2 separate regions of the Homo sapiens genome follow, and region 1 is linked to region 2. The links come from fine-mapping of genetic effects on gene expression. A gene starts in region 2. The other region holds a variant in brackets. All regions are shown on one strand. Distances are between the middles of the regions. Region 1 has its middle 35 kb from the start of C5orf22. Region 2 holds the start of C5orf22 (chromosome 5 open reading frame 22).

Region 1 (2,914 bases), 35 kb after region 2:
GCTGTACATTGGCCCCTTTTAGCCACAGCTGGAGCTAAAGCAGCTGGGATGCAGGGCACCATGTCCTGAGGCTACACAGAGCAGGGGGGCCCTGGCCCAGGCCTACAACACAATTTTTCCCTCCTAGGCCGCTGGGCCTGTGATGAGAGGGCTGCCACAAAGATCTCTGACCTGCCCTGGAGACATTTCCTGCATTGTCTTTGCTATTAACATTCAGCTCCTCATTACTTATGCAAATTTCTGCAGCCTGCTTGAATTTCTCCCCAGAAAATGTGTTTTTCTTCTCTATCGCATCTTCAGGCTGCAAACTTTCCAAACTTTTATGCTCTGTTTCCTCTTGAATGTTTTGCTGCTTAGAAATTTCTTCTATCAGATACCCTAAATTATCTCTCTCAAGTTCAAAGTTCCACAGATCTCTAGGGTAGGGGCAAAATGCCACCAGTCTCTTTGCCAAAGCATAGCAAGAGTCACCTTTGCTGCAGTTCCCAATAAGTTCATCATCTCTATCTGAGACCACCTCAGCCTGGACTTCATTGTCCACATCACTATCAACATTTTGGTCAAAACCATTCAACAAGTCTAGGAAGTTCCAAACTTACCCACATTTTCCTGTCTTCTGAGCCCTCCAAACTGTTCCAACCTCTGCCTGTTACCCAGTTCCAAATTCACTTCCCCATTTTTGAGTATCTTTATAGCAGCACCCTACTCTCTTCTGTATTAGTCCATTCTCACACTGCTATGAAGAAATACTTGAGACTGCGTAATTTATAAAGAAAAGAAGTTTAATTGGCTCACAGTTCCGCATGGCTGGGAAGGCCTCAGGAAACTTACAACCATGGTGGAAGGCGATAGAGGAGAAGGCACCTTCTTCACAGGGCAGCAGGATGGAGAAGTGCTGAGCAAAAGGGGAAAAGCCCCTTATAAAACCATCAGATTTCATGAGAACTCACTCACTATCATGAGAACAGCATGAGGGTAATCACCTCCATGTTTCAATACCTCCCACTGGGTCCCTCCCATGATATGTGGGGATTATGGGAACTACAATTCAAGATGAGATTTGGGTGGAGACACAGGCAAACCATATCATTGGCCTTGCATTAAACTTTCTTTACTGCAGTACCACAGTCTCAGTGAATTGCATTTGTCTGTGCAGCAGGCAGGAAGAACCCATCAGGCAATTGCAAGACTTTTATACAAGGATTTTCATTGTGACAGTAAAAGACTGGGGAGGAAGGTCTTTCAACAGGGACTGGTTAAGTTATCAGACATCCATATGGTGGTACCCTTACCACCACAGAAGGGGGCTCCTCTCTGTGTACTGATATTGAAAATTCCACCAGGAGGAAGAGAAAATATAAAATGATTAATAGTATATACAGGATGCCACTATGTATTTTCTTTTTCTTTTTTTTTCTTTTTTGTGTGTTCTAGGAGGCAAGGATGTATTTTATTTTTCTTATAACTTTTCTGTCATTCCTAGGGATTTGAGATAAGAGGGGGAGGCTCCAGGGTATGATTAATCTACCACATGATAGATTATGAAACTAATATGATGAAAACTTACAAATAACAACAAAGTTCAACAAGGTGGCTTAGATAGCAGATGGACATTCATAAATTAGTAGTTTTGTGATACACCAGTGATATGGTTTGGCTGTGTCCCCACCCAA[A/G]TCGCATCTCGAATTGTAGTTCCCATAATCCCCGTGTGTCATAGGAGGGACCCAGGTAGTTGTCATAGGAGGTAATTGAATCATGGGGGTGGTTATCCTCATGCTGTTCTTATGATAGTGAGTTCTCATGAGATCTGATGGTAAGGGGCTTAAGAGTGCCCTTTGCTCAGCACTCACTCTGTCCTGTCATCCTGTAAAGAAGGTGCCTGCTTCTCCTTTGCTTTCTGCCATGATTGTAAGTTTCCCAAGGCCTCCCCAACAATGTGAGACCGTGAGTCAATTAAACCTCTTTCTTTTATAAAATACCCAGTCTCAGGTATTTCTCCATGGCAGTGTGAAAACAGACTAATACAAATAGCAATAGATGGAAAATGTAATGGAAAAGAATTCACAACAGAACCTAAATAATAAATATAGAAGATCTTTACAAGGAAAAATGTAAACTTTATGAGATGTAGAAGAAATCCAAAATTAAGAACATTATTGGTTATAGACGATAAATTTCAGTATTTTAACATGCCAAGCTGGGTGCAGGGGCTCATGCCTATAATCCCAGCACTTTGGGAGGCCAAGGCAGAAGGATCACTTGCGCCCAGGAGTTTGAGACCAGCTTGGGTAACATGGTGAGACCCTTTCTCTACAAAAAATACAAAAATTAGGCCGGGTGTGGTGGCTCACGCCTGTGATCCCAGCATTTTGGGAGGCCGAGGCAGGTGGATCACTTTGAGGTCAGGAATTCAAGACCAGCCTGGCCAACATGGTGAAACCCCATCTCTAATAAAAATACAAAATTAGCTCGGCATGGTGGCACACACCTGTAATCCCAGCTACTCAGGAGGCTGAGGCAAGAGAATCATTTGAAACTGGGTGGCAGAGGTTGCAGTGAGCCAAGATCATGCCATTGCACTCCAGCCTGGGCAACAAGAGTGAAACTCCATCTCAAAAAAAAAAAAAAAATTAGCTGGGTGTGGTGGTGCATGCTTGTAGTCCCAGCTACTGGAGAGCTTGAGGTGGGAGGATCACTTGAACCTGGGTGGTGGAAGTTGCAGTGAGCAGAGATCATGCCACTGTACTCCAGCCTAAGCAAAAGAGAGAGACTGTCCAAAAAAAAAAAAAAAAAAAGCCAGCTCTCTGCAAGTTGATATGTAAAATGTAATCCCCAAAATAACCCAACAGTCTTTAGCATACAATTTGGCTAGCTAATTCAAGAATTCATAAGTAAGGCTAGAAGTGTATGCGTG
Region 2 (2,914 bases):
CTGGGCAACAAGAGCGAAACTCTAGCTCAAAAAAAAAAAAAAAAAAAAATCTCCCAACGTATGAATCTGCCCAGTGATTTTCTATCCATCTATCAATCTTAAATGCCACCTCCTCTATGAAGCCCTTCCTGATTCCCTTAGGTAATCCCATTCCCTCTAGACTTAGTCTATACTTAATCCTTTTACAGCACTTACCAGAGACTGCCTCATATCATAGTGAAGTATGCACACGTCTAACTCTTCCACTAGATTATCAGCTCCTTGATGATATGGGTTGATTCACAGTCATTTCTGTATCCTTCACATCCCCGGGAAAAGCAACCTACACACAGTAGGTGGTCAATAAATGTTTACTCTCTCACCAATAGTATGTTTCCATGTTGCTACTGTACATTTCCCTTCCATGTACCTCCGCAACAGAAAGCAGGCCTTTTCACTGAGTCATGCAATATTTAATGAGCCCATAAATGGGAAGCACTGTCCCAGGCCCTGTAGACTCAGAGATAATAAGACACACAGCCTGTAGGATTCAAGGAACTCAGAACCCACGTACAAGTAAGTGTTTTAAAAATACAAAATAATGCAATAAACACACAAAAAAGAGGTATGTGCAGGGCTTAGGGGAACACAAAGGTGTGTGCCGCACCTAGAGGTGGGCAAAAGTCAGGGTCACGAACACTCTTGTACAGTGTGTAACAAGAGCTGAACATTCACTGCCAGATCCTCATGGATGTTTCAGTAGTTAGAAAATCTAAAAATACTAATCATGAAATTGACCTATTGAAGGCATAGTCCGGCTGTGTTGTGGATGCAGACTTTAATTCAAAAGTCAAGGAATTCACTGCACCTGGAAAAGTAACTCTCTTTTCTCCGTCTGTCTCTTCTCGGTTGCGGTTTGGAAACAGAGACACTGAAGGAGCTGTCTTGAATAGTTAACACGGCCAGAACGTCAGTGCATGTAAAAAGAATTTTAAAGTGTGACTACATTTTTATTGAGAACTCCCTCTTTCCCCAGGTGGATCTGCAGGGCAGTCACCTTCATCCTGATCCATAACTGCACATTTACTGTTTGCATCTCCCGCCAGACGGTACGCCCCACGAGGCAGGCGCTGAGCTCAGGATCTCACTCCCCTCCGAGAGCCGGGCGGCCCCAGGCCTGGACCATAGTGTGTGCTCCACAAATGAATGAAAGGTCTCCTTTTTCACTTCCACTTATTTGCGGGATCCAGGCCTAGCGTCGCTCTTTTGCCCTTAGCTGCAGATCTGAAGTGGGGCTGCCCGACCCCAATTCCCGGACGCTTTTCACCCCAGCCCCGGAGACTCCAGCCCCGTTTAAATCCTGACACTCGGAAACTCTCTTCTAACACTTGCAAGGTACCCCTTTTACCTATAAAAGGCTCTCGGGCCGCGAGATCGCCGTCAGAGCAAAGCCAGGCTACTACCGCAGGTACCAAGACAGTGGCACCGCCCGCGCCTCCGGAACAGGAAACCGAGGGAATTAAAAAGCAAACCTGAGAAAGCTGGGCCAAGGGAGGGAAAACTCTTCAGCCCACCGCAGGGCCTTGTGCGCGGTGATTGGCGCGTCAACGAAAGCGATGGACGTCTAGACCAATCGTCAGCAAAAGACCCTTTGGAGCCCGCGCCCCCTCCCCCTACGTCCTCCAATCCGAAAACGCAACCGGGTGAGGGAGCGCTTCCGCCCGGAGAGAGCTGGCCGGGATGAGGCGCCGGCTTTCCCGGGTCTTCTCCAGCTGCCACCGCTTTACTGCAAAACTGACGGGCGCAAAAACATGAGTGACTCCGCGGGAGGGCGCGCTGGTCTCCGGCGTTACCCCAAGCTCCCAGTGTGGGTGGTGGAGGATCATCAGGAGGTGAGCGGACGGCAACAGGGCTCTGGGGCAGAATCAGCGGAAGCCCTGACGCTCAGAGGGCCAAGCAGAGGGCGCAACCTTAGCATCGGAGGCCAGAGAGTTAACCAGAGTTAAACTGCCCTATTCCGTTGCTGTGGAGAGGACCCCAAAACAGCTAACTAGGAAGAATGAGAACTGACATTTATGGGCGCTTCCTACGAGTCGGGGCAACTTATTTACCTCGGTTTGCCCCCAAATCCCAGAACCAAACAAAAGGTGGCATCGGGATTCGAAACCGGACAGTCTGGCTGCAGAGCCCTGTGTTCTTAACCTGCAGTTAACTCTGGCTTCCAAGTATCTCCTGGAATCGCCACCACAGCCCTGCTGTTTAGATGGGAGGCTTTATGCTTGGAACGTGGGCTCTGATCTGAAATGGGGACAGTAATCGTAGGACTCACAGGGCTCTTAGGAGTATTATTGTGTGCATACTGTGTTTAAAAATCTTTTTTTTTTCTTTTTTGAGACGGAGTCTCTCTCTGTTACCCAGACTGGAGTGCAGTGGCGCGATCTCGGCTCACTGCAACCTCCGCCTCCTGGGTTCGAGCGATTCTTCTGTCTCAGCCTCCTGAGTAGCTGGGATCACAGGCACGCATCACCGTACCCAGCTAATTTTTGTATTTTTAGTAGAGACGGGGCTTCGCCACGTTAGCCAGGATGGTCTGAAAGTCTGACCTCACGTGATCGGCCCCCGCCGGCCTCCCAAAGTGCTGGGATTGCAGGCGTGAGCTACTGCGCACGGCCCATATTGCGTAAAAAAAAAAAAAAATTTAACACGGTGCCCTGCATAGATAAACACTAAAAGGGGTTTCCATGTTTATGGCCGTGCTGATTTACAGTAGCCAAATTGGTGTCTTAATCTAGACTTTTCCAAGTCAACAAAGGAGGCCCATGGATCTAATAAATATGTTTTAAAGTAGCATCAGTAGGCTTGGGATGGGAGGCAGTTCTCTGGACGTTAAAAAAGAAGAGGGATTTACTGTTGGTGACAGCTAATAGGAGAGGAA

The links. PIP is the estimated chance that this variant, and not a neighbour inherited with it, causes the effect. A credible set is the group of variants that fine-mapping cannot tell apart.
Region 1: its variant is the best candidate, but not a certain one, in a credible set for the expression of C5orf22 in whole blood (TOPMed, PIP 0.71).

What each region holds. Positions count from the first base shown.
Region 1 is chr5:31,565,784-31,568,697 of GRCh38, forward strand. No RefSeq gene overlaps it. Among named protein-coding and RNA genes, the nearest start is that of C5orf22, 35 kb to the left of the region's middle. The variant A/G (reference allele first, on the strand shown) is at 1,674.
Region 2 is chr5:31,530,603-31,533,516 of GRCh38, forward strand. C5orf22 (chromosome 5 open reading frame 22) reads left to right here and starts at 1,699. Exons shown (of 9, transcript NM_018356.3): 1 at 1,699-1,871. The coding sequence starts at 1,791. DROSHA (drosha ribonuclease III) reads right to left here and starts at 1,491. Exons shown (of 36, transcript NM_001382508.1): 1 at 1,388-1,491; 2 at 848-923; 3 at 196-322. RefSeq lists enhancers at 1,571-1,740, 1,771-1,820, 1,871-1,920.